Linked DNA regions of Homo sapiens: region 2 is linked to region 1. The links come from fine-mapping of genetic effects on gene expression. Tissue or cell type: cerebellum. Region 1 holds a variant in brackets; the other region holds the start of a gene. All regions are shown on one strand. Distances are from middle to middle.

Region 1 (8,103 bases):
GTGGGCGGGTGAGGTGGTCACTGGGCACTGAGAAGCACTAGGCTTGCAGCAGGAGCTTCCTGGGGAGGGTCAGTGGAGGGTGCGAGGTTAGGTGGGGCTGGACCAGATTGTGCCAACAGTTGGAAACAAGTGTGAGGACCCAGGAGCAGCTATCCAGCTACCACCGGTACCAACATTGTTTTTCTTTTCCAAAAACCTCCTTAGATTACTTTCCCAGATTCATTTTAGAACTATTTTCCTTAAGTTCCAAGACATACTCTTTAGGAATTTCTACTGTAATTGCATAAAATCTTTATCCTTACATGGGGAAGAGTTGGAATCATTACAAAATTGTGTCTTTGCTTTGTAAATTATTCTCACCAGGGGTATAGATTTTGTGTGTGTGATTTGTATTTCATGGATATTTTACGTGTATGAGGGCAGGTTATCAGTCAATTTGGAGATTATTAGTTCTTGCTATTATAAGAGATCTGCTGTCTAACATTGCAAAATACTGGATAGTACACTTAAAATTTTAAGAGGGTAGATCTCAAGGTAAGTGTTCTTACCACAATAAAGTAAAATAATTTTTAAAAAATAAACAGGAGAAAATAGCAATGCAACAACATTTACAATACTCAAATGTTATATGACTGCTACTGTGTGAATCAGAGATTACATTTTAATGATTCTAAGATGCATTATCATAAGAATCATTAACAGGTCAATAAATAAACTTTAAGTTGGATCTCTGCAAGTAACTCTGTGCAAGCTGCTCTAGGGGTGGGAGAAGGGATTTGGGATAGTCTCCATGTCATTTCCAAGAATTCTGGGATTGGTGTTTTACTCGGATCAGAGATATAAATTCCTAATGCCCTAGCTATCTGAACTATCTCCTAAAGTCAGGCTCTTCCAAGAGGCATGATCCTCTGCCTCCAGGATGAAAGGGGAACATCAAAAGGCCTAGACCTCAAGTATGTGACCCACTCAACATCCTGGAGCTTGAAGTCTTCACTGCTGCAATCATTTCTTTGGCATTTTACTCAGCGAATGAACATTATGGTCAAGTCAAAACCCTTCTTCTTGGATATCACTGTATGGTATGCAAAATAATGAAACTTGTTTGCTCTTTAAAGAAAAGGCTTCCTTCTTTAAGAATCACAGCCCTGGGATCATCGGATAGCATGTTAGCTGTCGCAGCACAGGCATGTGCTTAGAGCTCTTTGTTTTGGCTGCGGTCAAGACTATTCAGATCTCTTCTCTCTGCCCTTTTTAGGTTTGACACCTATAGATCCAAGAAAGAGAGTGAACGTCTGGTCCAGTATTTGAACGCGGTGCCCGATGGCAGGATCCTTTCTGTTGCAGTGAATGATGAAGGTTCTCGAAATCTGGATGACATGGCCAGGAAGGCGATGACCAAATTGGGAAGCAAACACTTCCTGCACCTTGGATTTAGGTACTGCCCCTCACTTCGGCTTCCACTGGGCTCTGGAACATTGAAGCCACTCTATCCCACTGAGAATTTACCTTTCCCATCTCCTCTCCCCACAGCCGTACCATCCTAAATGACCTAGTGGATGCAGGCATTTGCATTTGACATCTGAGTTTGGCATATTTGGGAATTGTTCTTAAAGAATGCTTGTTTTTTCTTACAAGCATAGTTCACTCAAAACAAACAAAAGCTCGCTGTTTATATGAACTCATTCATTCAGTCGGCCACTTACAAAATATTAAGTGAGCATCTACTGTGTGTAAGAGCCATGCCTCCAATGCACAGCTAATATTCATTTTCTCTTTCTTTGGTAAAGAGGTCATGTCATGGCTTGGGGTTTTTCAGAGATTATGTGAAGTGTCTCTGCTGAGGCAAATGACCAAGGAGAAGCAACCCTTTGACATGATCTAATATGTGTTTTGTTTGCCTTGGAGTGCAGCATCATGCCTGACATTGGCATGCACACACATTGACACTAAGAGGAAGCTGTTTGCCCCACAGTAAACAATGCCTTTTTTAAAAATTTAATTTAATTTAAAGTTCCAGGATACATATGCAGGACGTGCTTGTTTGTTACCTAGGTAAACGTGTGCCGCGATGGTTTGCTGCACCTATCAACCTATCACCCCGGTATTAAGCCCAGCATCCACTAGCTATTTGTCCTGATCCTCTCCCTCCCTCTGCCCCTCGCCCCTGCCAAGCCCCAGTGTGTGTTGTTCCCCTCCCTGTGTCCATGGTAAGCACACCTTTTTATCATGTTGAATCAAATCTCAGCTCAGTGGAAAGTTGAGGTTATCTGTCCCATGGCTGTTTAGAGATTACGATGCTCCTCCCTTCAGCTTCCCACATCTGGGAGCAAGATCAGAGGGAAGCCAGAGACTTTTCTGGGCTTGGAGCAAAGCAATTTTGCTGGCTGGGCAGAAATTCCCTGGGCAAGGGAGGGGTGCTCCAGGTTCCAGAGTGCATTTTCCGACAGCCCAGAGACTACTTCTTCTGGACGGGAAACTCAAGCAGGAAACTTAAGCAGCCAAAGATGACAATGACACCTTGGCATTGCAAGCCTCCTTTGTTAGCAAACACTAAGTGCACTTCCATTCTGTTGTTTTATAAACCAAAAGGCCAGTTTATTAATTTACAGTGAGAGTTAGAAACACCAGGAAACTGACTATTTACGGCCTCAGCAGAAGAAGAAAGTGGCTAAGGGCCCAAGATCTGGCATCCAGTGGCCTGAGTTTGAGTCTGGGTTGCACCTTCCAGGAGGTGTGACTGCAGGCAAGTGACTCATTCTCTTTGCCTGGTCCTGCATCTGTAAAATGGGATATACGAGGAGCTATCTCAAAGGACTATAGGACAATTAAATGTGATAATATGAACAAAATATTTGTCATCATGTCTGGCACAGAATAAGCACTCCATAAATGTTAGCAACTATTTTCTCCTTATAAGCAAGAGCCACTGGAAAGGTGGGCACTCGCCGTCTTTTGCCAGGGCTGTTCACATGGGCAAAGGAGATACATAGGTGGGAATTACACGTCCACACCTCATTTGTATAGAGACATTCTTTGAGTGATAAACTTGAAGCATCTAAAATCAGTAGGAGAACTGAGACTTGGACCCTTCATTTGTTCACCCATTCAGGAAATGAACACATACTGGTGGGAGGTACTCGGTTAGACCAGGTGTCCTGAACTCTTGGGGGAAGGCAGGTATGAATGGAAATTGGTGACGGGGCATGAGAGAGCAAGAGAGTGGGCAAGTGTAGTTTAGTGCAGACGAACACATGAGGATGAGGCCAAGCTGGTTCCCATAGAGAGATCAGCAGCTTCGGAGGCCCAGGGGCAAAAGCATGCCTCTCCCAAAGAAGGTGGGGATGGCGAGGCAGTGGCAGTATATGAGAGAGGCAAGGGGTGAGAGGTGAGGCTGGAGGGGGGCGGGGGCAAAGGACCTTCGAATCTGTGCCAAGGAGCTTGGATTTTATCCAAAGGGCAATGGGGAGCTACTGAAGGATTTAAGCAGGAAAGTGGACAGTTAAATCCCCAACCTCAGTTAAACACCGTTCAATAGTGATTCATTTTCCAAGACAAGAGATCAAAACAAGAATAATGAGAGCTATTCAGCACCAAAATCGATTGATAGCTTATAGTAAGAGAGGGCTACTGTAGGGGGGGAAAATCTCTTTCCTTCTACTCTTCTAAGTTCTTGACTGGAGCACCTGCAACAAATCACTGATTAACAGGAGAAAAGCACACAAATGTATTTCAGATAGTAAGTTTTAAACGACATGGGAGCCTTCATAAGGAAACGAGGACCCAAATACACAGTTAAACCTGAGTGTCTGTACACGAGGTTTGATGAAGTGGAGAGCTGTGGGAAAATGTGGTAGGACAAGGGGCTTGAGTTAAACACAGTAAACAGGGGAAATTTAGCAAGGTCTCTGTTCCTTCAGATTCCTCTTGGCTTCCTTCTGTGTTTGGGGATAAGGATGCTCTTTTTCTCAGAATAAGGAAGGCCCTCTCACATAAGGGTCTTAGACCTGCTTCAGGGGAAAGTCAGAAACTCCTTCCTGCCATTTCACAAATTCCTTGAGCTTGAAATATTCAATATGCCAAGTTGCCATTTTGGGGGGTAGCGTCTCCTGAACTTCATTACTGCATTAGGCATTACGCAAAATGCCTAAAACAAAATGGGGTAAGAAAACCTTGCTGCCCTAAAGCAGCACGTGCTTTCATGGAGGAATGATGGATGTACAATTTTTCAAAACCTTAAGCCTTTTTTTGCTTCCCTCCCCATTAAGAAGAAGAGAGATTTCTCTCCTTTCCACGGCCCAAGGCAGATGGCTAGGGCAGTCAGTCATGTTAGCCTCTGGTATTTTCCTCGAGCTCAACTCTAGGGGAGCTGAGCATGAGAGAAATAACCTTTCTCTCTTGGAACATGTTTTCCTGAAGGTATCCAAGCATTTGCTTCAGGACATAATTGAGCCTGGCGGGTGGTAT[A/G]GTAGGTCTGTTGGCTTGTTTGTTTATTTGTGATTCATGCTCCCATCTTCTGCCAGAATGGAGCTGAAGAGGCTCACAGGGAGCAAACATCAGGCAGGCCAGGGAGCGAGAAAGCCCAGAGGAGTGCTTGCAAAGAAAGGTGCTTCTTCTGGAGAAGAGAAGCCCAGCAAGTGAATGAATTTCCCCCAAACAGCAGGGAGGGACCCTCCTTCACCTGACGCTGCTTCAACTCTGCCCCATCCCCCCACACTCTGTGCAGGTACAGACTCGTGCAGAACTTTACTTTTTGTTATGTTTTTCTTTTTTTCAGACACCCTTGGAGTTTTCTAACTGTGAAAGGAAATCCATCATCTTCAGTGGAAGACCATATTGAATATCATGGTAATACATAGCTGGCTGGAGGCCTGATTCCCTCCAGTGTCTCTCTGATCAAGAGGTGCAGGGCTTTTCTGAACATCTCACTTTTCTCAGAGCATGGCTTCCCAGCTCCCAATGTCTAGATGAGTGAGCAGCCGCTTAACTGGCCACCTTACATGGAAGTGGCAAAGGCCAATGCTGGCCAAAGGCCCATCACTTGCAGTAATATTTCCCTTTTCATGGAAATCTTCACTGACTTAATCAAAAACCTAGAATTGGCATAGAAAAGATAAGAACTGAGATAGAGCCAGCAGGGGTGGTATTTTAAGAGCTAAAACGAGGCTGGGTGTGGTGGCTCACGCTTGTAATCCCAGCATTTTGGGAGGCCGAGGCGGGTGGATCACTTGAGGTCAGGAGTTCGAAACCACCCTGGCCAATATGGTAAAACCGTGTCTCTACTAAAATTACAAAAAAAAAAAGAATTAGCCAGGCATGGTGGTGGGCACCTGTAGTCCCAGCTACTTGGGAGGAGATTGCACCACTGCACTCCAGCCTGAGCAACAGAGACCCCGTCTCAAAAAAATTTAAAAAAAAAGAGCTAAAGCGACACTTTAGATGGGCCTTCAGGACACAGTAGTAGCCTCCTTTGCCCAGCAAAGGCTGCGGGAAGCGCTGCAGTTCTAATGCCAAGGAGGAATTCAGACCGTGAGACATGCTAGAGCTCTGCAATCTGAATTTGTTGGGAGGCTGGAACTAAACTTTCAAAACTGAAACAAAAGAATGGATGATCATCTCTTCCCAAGTGAATGAATGTCCTAATTTTCTTTTATTTACTTAAAAAATATTTTTAAAGAAATGAGTCAATGCCCATGTGCGTAGGGGGGTTTCCTTGCCTTGGAGTCACAACTTTTTGAATTTGGGGGTCTGTCCAGCTCCTAAAGGGTCTCGTTTCTCTGACAGGACATCGAGGCTCTGCTGCTGCCCGGGTATTCAAATTGTTCCAGACAGAGCATGGCGAATATTTCAATGTTTCTTTGTCCAGTGAGTGGGTTCAAGGTGAGGAGTTTCAGACAATTTGGTGACACCTAACAGTGGGATAGAAGACCAGAAATCACTGTCTTTGCAGAACTAGGATTTATCTCTTATACCAGTAGGACCACTTTAATTTTTGCAGAATCAACTAAAAATGTGCAACCAAAAGTTGTCTTTAATTAGACAAGCCACTTTAGCCCATAGCCCAGAAGGATGTTCTCCTCTGGCTAAGATTTCAATTTCACCTCAGTCAGGGTCTGCGGCATTCAGCTTAGTTCACGGAATATCTTTGATGTGGCAGGCAATGGCACTGAACAGGAAATGCAGATAGGAATAGAACCTGCCCTCCAAATAGCCCACATGCAGGGATTGCAGAAAGCAGCAATCCTAGTTGCAGTCCTTGGATAACGGGTTTACAGATGGATTTTCTTTCTTTTCTCTTTAATTTGCTTTTGCAATAACAAAGAATATAAATTGCTTTTATAAAAGTAAGAAACTCATTAAGAGAAACTCATTTTTTAATTAAAACATGGGAGCATAGGCAGATTGATTAGAGCCATCCATGCCCCAGCCTGGTGCAACCATGGACAGATAATATTCAGTTCCCATGGTGCTGAGGATGCTTGGAGACAACACTGAGTGTGACTTGCCCTCACAGACAACCTCCTGTCTGACTGTGCTGTTTGCTTTCTGCCTAGACGTGGAGTGGACGGAGTGGTTCGATCATGATAAAGTATCTCAGACTAAAGGTGGGGAGAAAATTTCAGACCTCTGGAAAGCTCACCCAGGAAAAATATGCAATCGTCCCATTGATATACAGGTACCAAACTCACAGCAAAAATAGAAAATAGAAATGTGTTGTTTTGAAGAAGACTCTATAGATCACAGACATTCTTGTCACTTGGGTGCTGTGATTCTCGTTGCCCTCCTGTGAGGTAGGTCAGCCAAAGAGTACCATTCCCACTTTAGAGACTGAAGCAGAGGCTTACTATCTGCCCAAAAGCCAGGGCTCAGATTCTCTCCTGGGTCCAGCTTCTGAGTTCCTTCTCTTTAACTTGCTTCTTCAGCCATGACTGAGTGTGCCCCCACCACAGGGATGGGTTTGGACTCCCCAGCCTCACTTCCCCGTCAATTTCCTTAGGGACCTTGAGTGCACAGGATGCAGCTAGGATTTGGGGTGCAGGCCAGGCCAGCCCAGATGGAGAACACACGCATGGCCTTGTTCTCAATTGAGCTAAATCAAAGCCAGCATTCATAGAATGGACAGTGTTTGCTCAAAATCTTCACTTAGAGTTAATTCCATCTGAAGGGGACCTTGATGTTCTCAGTTGGCTCCATCAAGAAAGTGTTGAGTAAATATACAGGCCTCACCAGCTGAGCCAGTGGGATACTAGGCTTTGGGAACAACAGGAGAGACAGGAGAAATAGGCAAAGTAAATGAGATTTATCTCCTTATGCCCAGTCTCATTCCAAGACAAGATTTGAGGCTGCTTAAATGCTTGATAGAGAATTAGAAGTCATTTGAGCTGGGCTCAGTGGATCATGCCTGTAATCCCAGCACTTTGGGAGGCCAAGGTGGGCAGATCACTTGAGGTCAGGAGTTAGAGACCAGCCTGGCCAGTATGGTGAAACCCCCTCTCGACTAAAAATACAAAAAAAAAAAAAAAATTAGCTTGGTGTGGTGGCGGGTGCCTGTAGTCCCAGCTACTCAGGGTCTGAGGCAGGAGAATTGCGTAAACAGGAGGTGGAGGTTGTGGTGAGCTGAGATCGCACCACTGTACTCCAGCCTGGGTGACCGAGCAAGACTCTGACTCAAAAAAAAAAACAAAAAAAAACCAGGCATTTGAGAAAGGCCATCTCCACCCATTTTATCCTCCTTCAGCCAATAAAAATAGCTACCCCATTTGTACAACACTTTTTCCTAGAATATCAAAGCTCGGGTCCCAGGTCAGCTCGAGTCCCAGGCCATCTGTCTGTGCTTTCACCCCGCCACACCATCCTGGGCAGAACTTCTACCCTCTGTCTTGCCTTGTAAGAAGGACCACTTATCCAAGGGAGGAGCCTCTGTTCTGCACTTAGCAAAGTCTGAGGAAAACTTTCTCATTATTTGGCTGAGACTCTTCCCTTCACATGGCTTCAGTGTTATTGAGAAGGATTTACCCAGATTAAGTTTCAAGTTGCAGATTCTCCTTGGGTCCAACAGAATCAAAAAGCACTGATCCCCCACAGCACATTCTTTCCAGATTTAAT
Region 2 (8,103 bases), 110 kb before region 1:
GAACAAAAGGAAATAAATAAGAAGAAGACATCATACATACACCGTTTACCTATGTTTTAGACATAAATAAAACACAGGAAAGAAGAGTTCTTTCTCTAGAGTGACGGTGAGTTTGAAGAGGAAGATATAGAAATCCACTTTCAGAGCTGGGATTTGCTGTCATAAGTTCCAGCACAGGCCTTCACTCACCAGAAAAGCTGAGGACATGTCTCTCTTCAGCTGGGCAGCCTCTTCTGTGTCCAACAAGACAGGAATCAACAGCTCTGAGAGCTGGAAATCTGGCCTCCGGATCCAGGCCTGGGAATTTCCCTTTTCTGATGCCAGCTTCAGGCCCAGTGTCTAAGGGCGACCCCTGTTGGTGGGACTTAAGTATGCTCATTATTCGTGAGCTGCTTCTCCAAGGGTGGAGATGCCCAATTCAGTTTTAATTTTTTGTGGGTCTGCTGGAAACCTTGAGGCCCACAGCCCACTCACACACTACCCTAACTACATCCTGCTTCCCTTTTCTCCTTGTCCTCCACCCGTCTACTCCAGGTTTTCCTGGACAACTGGGTCTGGAGGCTTGGCGTATGGAGCCACAGGTGTGGCCAACCTTTTAAACTGTAATAAGGCAGGCTGCTGTAGGGTCAGGTGCTGTCTTTGCTGATCAGCAGGTGGAGTGTGGAGGCCCTTGTTTTAGGGAACAGATGTGGCATCCTGTCAGCAGACTGAGGATGCCAGACTTGGGCAGCTTGAGGCAACAGTGAGCAGGCAGGCCAATCTACTGCACAAGGATGTAGCTGAGGGGGCTGCATCCCACCTGAGGAAGGTGGGTTGGAGGCAAATGCAAAGAATGGAGGAAGGGCAGGCTTTCTGGGTGGCAGGTCACACCATTGATGGGCGTTTCCCTTCTCTCTGGAGACTCTCTGCTGGGAGATTTCGGCAAGAATCAGAAAACTAACACAGCCTTTCTTGACCAGCTCTTTCCTGTCTCTGCATTTATAAGAGCAAGACAATGGATTGCGAAAGTGTGGGCAGTAAATCCACCAGTGTCATGTTGCTATATTTATCCATAAAGAATTACGCGGCACGCCCCGTTCATCACTGAGTGCTGAATGGCAGTGCTGAATGGAGAACTGGCTGGAGAATCTGGTTTTAGACATTCGGAGCCTGTTTGTAATTCATCAGCACTGCTCTTTTCCCCTGGGCATTGGTCTGTGATAAAGAAAACTGGATACCAGAGGAATGTGCTGGGCATTTCAGTGCTTTGAGAAAACATAGCCAAGCACTTCTCAGGGCCCATCCCTAGACAGGACCCTGCCTTTACCACTTCATCTCCCAGATGGCTGTGGAGCCAGCCCCTCACCAGAGAGCTACCTGGCTCCACTCAGGCCTCAAATCTACTGTCTGTTGATGGAAAATCCTGCATGTCGTGCCAAGCCAGGCTGATTCAAGGTCGACCTTTCTCCATTTGGGCCAAATGCCCAGCACCCCCAAACCCCTAACACACAACTCTTTGTGGGTCTGGTTTCTGGGAGCTCCTTAAGGAAGAAAAACATAAACAGGAATCATGGTGAGGACTGGGGAGAGGGGCCCTGGGTCGGGGGGGCTCCATTTTATTCGGCTGGAAAGAAAAGGTTGGGGAGGAGGGCTTGCCATTGGATCCAGTTCATTACTTCCCAATAAATCAAAGAAGGGCTGAGAATCCTGACCACCACCCCCAGTAAGGATCAAGTTCCGCTTTCTGGAAGAGGCCTAGAGGTGGATTGCAGGACTTCCCAGTTTAACCAGGTGACAAAGGCTTCTGCTTCAGCCCAGATGTGATCACAGACTTCCACAGCTTCTGCCGACCACAGCCTGGCCTTAAAGTCCAGACCTAGAGTCCCGGAGCTAGTGTGTACTACACAGAATGGAGACCTTGCCTGAGGAGCTGGTTCTCAGAGAACACTGGCAGGAAGGAAGAAAGAAATGTATATTCTAGGAGGCCTCTGCTAACCAGGAAAGGGGGCTGAGTCACACTCTGAAAGGTGGAAGAGGCAGAGAGCAGGTATCAACGCCCTCATTTTACAGATTAAAACAAAACAAGAAAAACAAACACTCCTCACCTCCCTGCAAAAAAACCACCCTGAGGCTCAGACAGGGGAAGTAGCTGGCCCTGGTCACACAGTAGGTTAGCGGCAGAGTTGAGAGGAGACTCCATATGCCCTAGGGATGTGTTGTGATGAACTTTTCCTACTGGTACTGTTTCCTCCCGCGAGGGAATGTCTAGACCAGCCGCACCTTCTTGCTTTGACCCTTCAGAACTTTGGCCTGTCCAGTTAAAGAGGCACAGAGCCCTCCTACCCACAGGGAATGTTTCTAACTTACCAAGCACCTATTATGTGCTTAGAACTTGGACTTTCCTGATCTCATTTAAGCCTCACCATTCTAGTGAGGAAGCATCACAGAACCCATTTTCCTGATGAGGAAACTGAGACTGGGAGGGGTTAAGATCCTGTACACAGTTGTAACTGGCATGTCTGAATCCAGTTTCAAACCAAGGTGCCTTTCAGTGAACACCCAAGCATCTTCCTCTCGGATTAACTGCTAGGCCAATACCAAAATCTCTTTCTCGGGCTACTCTTTTGCTGCTGAGTTAAAAAGAGATCCTGAGACTTAGCCTGGGACCCCGACTCGCGGCGATTCTGTGGCAGGCGCAGACCTTTTCTCCTGTCCTCCACTGCCTCTTTGCCTCGGAGGGCGCCCCGGGGCGCGAGCGGGGCACGGGCGACCCTGGCTCCTTGGAGGCCCGGGGACTTGCTCTCCGCGGTCCGCCGCGGCCGCTCCACCGAGTCCTGGCCTCCAGCGCCCTCACCTGGCTGCTGCGGGCGGGACTCTGCGCACCCGGGCTCCGCGGGCTCAGGTCTGCGTCTCCCAGAGCCGCCGCCAGAGCCCGCCCCGGTCCGGCCCGGGCACAGGGCCCCCGCCCCACTTGGGCAAGGCGGGGGCGCGTGGAGGGAAGTTTCATCGGGGGGCGAGGGAGGGAGCTTCGGTGCCGCGCGGGCGTCAGGGGCTCCTCGGGGGAGGAGTCAGTAAAAGTGGCTATAAAAGCGGCCTCTCGGCTGAGGGCCGGGGAGCTAGCGCTCAAGCAGAGCCCAGCGCGGTGCTATCGGACAGAGCCTGGCGAGCGCAAGCGGCGCGGGGAGCCAGCGGGGCTGAGCGCGGCCAGGGTCTGAACCCAGATTTCCCAGACTAGCTACCACTCCGCTTGCCCACGCCCCGGGAGCTCGCGGCGCCTGGCGGTCAGCGACCAGACGTCCGGGGCCGCTGCGCTCCTGGCCCGCGAGGCGTGACACTGTCTCGGCTACAGACCCAGAGGTAAGAGGGCCTGGCTGGGGGCGTCAGGGATGAGCTGACGGCCCATGCCACGGAAGAGAGGTAAGAAGTGGGGGCCCGCGCCTCCACCCGGCACAGGGTAAACGTTACCCGCCTCAGTTTCTGTTTGTCTGTCCACCCTGTGCTGTGCAGTCTACCTCTATCTGTCTGTTTGTCCATGCGTCTGTTGATGGGCACACGCTCTTGGCACTGTCCTCTGTGGGATTTCTCTGAGATCTTGTGATGCTTTACAAGCTGCAGGTGCCGGGGGGCGCTGGAGTCCCCAGAGGGCATCCAGAGGGGGCAGACTCCTGCTTTCCGTAGATTTTCCCCCTTCTGAATGGCACCGGGGGCTTGCGCCCGGGAGAGTGTCTCGCCGAGGAGGGAGTACCACAAGGGTCAGGTCTCGGTGTCCTGCCGACTGGGAGCCAGCTCACGCCGAGCTCTAGCGGGCGTGCGCCTAGCAACAGGTCTGCGCCCTGCTGCTCCTGCCTCAGCACGCTCTTCCTCCCAGTTTCCCTCGCCTCCCAGTGCCTCCGGGACAGCGCTAGGCACCCAGCGACGCGCTGGCGCGGGGCCGAGCTGAGGCAATTGCAATGTTAGATGAACCCGGGGGGCTCTGCTGATGTTTAGACTGAGACTCCAAACGTGGCATCGCTGGAAGAAGGTCTGGTGGTCCCTGGCAAAGGACGTCGGCTCCAAGAAAGGTCGCGTTAGGTTGTGAGGAAAGGCAGAGAGTCCTGGCAGAACGCTGGCCAGGTCTCCAGCTCGCCGCTCTGGGAACGAAGGCCAGTGACATTCTGGAATGGACCCCAAGGGATGCGTGTGCTCATGAGAGAGGAGCGCTGTGCGCCCTGGGTCCTCAGCCGCAGACACTCTCTGCGACAGCCGCTGTTCCCCAAGGGTCGGACGCTACGGCAGTCCCAGGAGTTCCGCCAGCTGCCGGGTTTGAGGTCCTGAGTCCTTCTCCAAGCAGCCAACGCTACCCACAGGTGAGAGCTCCCTTTAAAAACTAATCTTCTGATGTGTGAGCCAGTGCCTGGCTGCAGCCCCATACCAGGGACGGTGAGCCGGGGAGCGCGTCTCTCCATCCCTGCGGTCTGGAAAGTGATCCAGGGCGCGCCCGAGGGCGGGGAGCCGGCGGCTCTGCGTGCCCAGGCGCGACGCCACCATGGACAGCTCCCAGCCACTTCCTCCACTCGGGGTCTGTGGCCCTGGGTCTCCGGGGAAGTCGTGCGCTTTCTTCCCAGACCCAAGGCGTTGGGGCGCTGGGAAAGAGGAAAGGGACTGAGAGTCCGCTGGGGCCCTCGGTATTACCACTCAGGAGGCAGCCCAGCCCTCAGGAGTCTGTGGTTTGTGACCAGGTCCTAGCTGAGCCGGCAGTTCTGCAGGACCTCCCGGGGGCACTCTGTGGTTCTCTGGCTTTTCTATGACACCACGGAGACCCCTCAGAGCTGTTAGGAAAGTATGGCCCCTGAGAATCCGACCCAGGCAGTGAGATAATGCCAGATACAATTACGCCAGACATAATTAGGGATCCAGCTCAAACTGTTTTCTGTGTAGGGCACAAGTTCATGTGTTCCATCAAATTAAATTATTTATTTAGTACATATGGGATTGGGAGGATATATTAGTTTTACGATTAATGATAGAATGGAGAAGAAATCAAATAGAGCAAATTTATAGAGAAGGCAATCGGATGCATTTGCAAAAGCAACTATGCGGTTTTCTGATCCTAATAGTTTTGTTCAAAGCCCATGACTTTCTTAAAGCAATTTCCAAAGGCTCCTTTTTAGCCCAGTAGATGACTTTTCAAGTTGGTCACTTGAAACAGGGTGGAAAAACCTGTAGGGTTTAATCTGTGCACCAAATTAAAGATCTCCCTTCTCTGGTAAGAAACGACACTGGATGGGGCTCTTTTTGTCATTTCCACCCATACTGAAGTGTGTATCTTCCTTTATTTTAAAATTACAAGAAACGCAGGTCTGCTTTTTTTGTGTGTGACTGACAAAGGCCGACGGAGAGTAAAAACAAGTAAACACCTCTTATAAAAAAAAATTTTGAGACAGCATCTGTGACTTTGGGAAAGTTGCTCAAATGTTTTGTGCCTGTTTGCTGATATGTAAACTGGGAATAACGCAATGCCATCTTGCAGGGTTGCTATGAGAATTACAGTAATTGGTACAATGTAAAGCATTTAATCCAGTGCTGAGCATAGAGAAATCGTTTTAAATGGTAGCAATTACAGGTATATTTTAAAGACAGTTGTGCATTTCTTTTGAATTATGTTCACCATCCCTTTGCCCTCTCTCTTAACCTAGTAACTGTTTGATAGGGACTCCATCTTCACTTTATTTTTGCATCCGAGAACTTGTTGATGGAATTGATGAAAATGCTGGAGTTGATCACAATGAAAAAAAAATTCTTATTTAAAGACAAATGGAAGAACTTTTATGTGATAAAAATCGGTCAACTGTTTTCCCCTACCTACACTACTTGGAGGAAAGATAAAAGTAAGTTGTTTTCAAAATACTCTCACAGCCCTCTGGTTCAGATGATCAATTTTTCCTGATTGTTCTCTCACAAGAATGCAAGGTCTTCTAAGTGGCTTTGTTGTCTTTCTGCAAGTGAAGTACTCTTGGGTATTGATGGAGAGTGGCCTCTAAGGCCTGGTTTCTAGATCACTCCAGGATGAAGTAGGGGTTAGCTTTATGGAGTGGAACTTTGCCCAGGGGTTCACTGAGTGGTCATTGCCAAGCAGGAAGCACCTTACTTCATGCTTGAGCCTTGCTTAGGTGTGAGATTCTGACCAAGATACTTGCTCTGCCCAGAGCAGTGAGCACTTATTTGATCCCAGCTGGACTGGAGGGTCCCTTCCAGCTCTGCATTTCAGGGTTCTGTCTGGTAGACATCACTAATACATGACACACCACAGAAGTTTGGAGAATGGAATTGTATAGTACCCAGTCTTCCAGTTAGAGTTTTCTCCCCCCACAAAAGTGTGTGTGTGTGCGTGCATGTGAGTGTTTTTATCCCTGTCAGTTTTACATTCTGGTGCTCTTAGATTTTTATTCTTCTCCTCCTTCTGCTCTTAATAGCTCAGAAGGAATCTTAGCTTCTTCCGTCTAAAAGGATTGGAGCTGAAGAATACATGCTACAGATGCTCAGAATCTTTCTATGAGACTGCTGGTGACATGAACAGAGCAGGAGGACATGGGGCCTTGGATGACCTTGAATTCCTGGCTGTCTTCTGTGGACTCCCATGCAGATTCCAGTTTCCAGCATACCCATGGCTTTCTGGTAAGAAAACTATTGAACTACAGGACACTCTTGGAGTGAAGGCCAATGAGGGGAGGAACTGTCATGTAAAGTGGTAGAAACGAGCTCTTCATCAGTCCTGTGGCATTCTGCCTATTGCAACAGTATCTGAGTCCTCAGGACAGACAGAGCAAATGGCAAGAGTGGCATTCAGTGGGGAAGGCCAGCAGAGTGAAAGGGGTGAATTCAATTATTCTCATCAGCCTCCTTTGAAGCCTGCTGCTTAAGTGACCTCTTTTTAGTACCTTCTGTGGTATCGGCAAAGCATCACAATTTGATGGATTAAATGCAATTTGCATTTGCAGTTATAGCTCAAAAGAGAAATGCAAACATGTAGGTTGGGTTCCTAAATGGGAACAAAGTTGTATTTGTGAGTTGCATCCACAAGATAGCATATCTTTGAAAAGTCTGGACTACACATCTCTTTCTACATGATGGCACATACCCAGGTGTTTGATCTTATCAGGGTAAAGCATCAGCTATCTCTCACTGCTTGTTTTTTACCATTATCTGGAGGCAGTTTCAGTTTCCTTTGAACAGTGAATAGGAAAGGATCACATTCTTACTCTCTTGTATCTGGTTGGGTTGGCAGGAGGCTGGAAGTGGCAGTGGGTACTGGGGGAGACTTCTCAGTGCTGGGTTCCTTTCTACTGTTTTGCAAGCTATTCAGCTGGGCCTGAACCTCCTTTCCCTAAAGTCTGGCATGTAGAAACTTTGCTAATTTGAGTAGGATGGTGACTGTCATGGTGACTTTTATTAATATCTGCACCTCTTTGCTTTAGCTACTTTCTTCAGGGGCCATCTTATCCTCTCTGGCAGGCCCCTAGTCCTTCTTTTTCTTCTCTGTGCCCTGGCACCAGGCTTTGTTCAAGCTTGGTTCTTCAGAACGGAGGCTGCTTGCAGAGAAATGTCATCAAATATACATTTGCTGTCTGCTTAGTTCCCTTGGTGTTAGGAAACACACATGGCCACCCAGAGGGAGAGGAGCTGCTACTCCTCTCTGCCCCTGTTATTTTTTAGGGCCTGTCCCTAGACTCAGCTTGGCTCCAGGAATCTGAATCCATCCTTGCCTCCCCACCCCTGCAGGTGAGTGAGCCCTGGGGAGCACAAGCAGTCAGGCCTTCCTTGCACAGGCACCTGCTCAGAGCAAGGAGCTGGACAGCCTGGCTCCTTGCACTGGGATATCTTTGAGTCTTCTGGAAGGGCAGTCATATCAGGGGTTTAGATGCAACTTCAGTTTAAAGTGCTTTGCCCAGACTTTGAAAACCTTTGAAGACCAGGTCTTTGAAAGCCCTGTGAATTTCTTTCTCTCCTGTCAGTAGGAGAGCTGCACCATTAGACATTTTCTGTTACGGAGAAAGCATATCTAGATAGTTGTTCTGGCATGGAAGGTGTCCATGCCAGATTGCTGTCTTACCTGTTTTTAGACATCACACGGAGGAGGGAGGGCCA

Which allele goes with the higher level. Positions count from the first base shown, and alleles are read on the strand shown. Sizes are in standard deviations (SD) of each study's normalised expression.
In carriers of allele G in region 1, the expression in cerebellum of the gene that starts at base 3,092 in region 2 tends to be higher than with A alone (moderate effect, 0.48 SD a copy in GTEx).

The links. PIP is the estimated chance that this variant, and not a neighbour inherited with it, causes the effect.
Region 2: it holds the start of CEMIP, and the variant in region 1 is fine-mapped to the expression of CEMIP in cerebellum (GTEx, PIP 0.96).

Annotation. Positions count from the first base shown.
Region 1 is chr15:80,882,920-80,891,022 of GRCh38, forward strand. It overlaps CEMIP (cell migration inducing hyaluronidase 1), which reads left to right. Exons shown (of 30, transcript NM_001293298.2): 7 at 1,256-1,435; 8 at 4,775-4,845; 9 at 5,782-5,877; 10 at 6,552-6,673. Among named protein-coding and RNA genes, the nearest start is that of MIR549A, 45 kb to the left of the region's middle. The variant A/G (reference allele first, on the strand shown) is at 4,465.
Region 2 is chr15:80,776,279-80,784,381 of GRCh38, forward strand. CEMIP (cell migration inducing hyaluronidase 1) reads left to right here and starts at 3,092. Exons shown (of 30, transcript NM_001293298.2): 1 at 3,092-3,336. RefSeq lists a silencer at 2,714-2,993 and an enhancer at 3,614-4,119.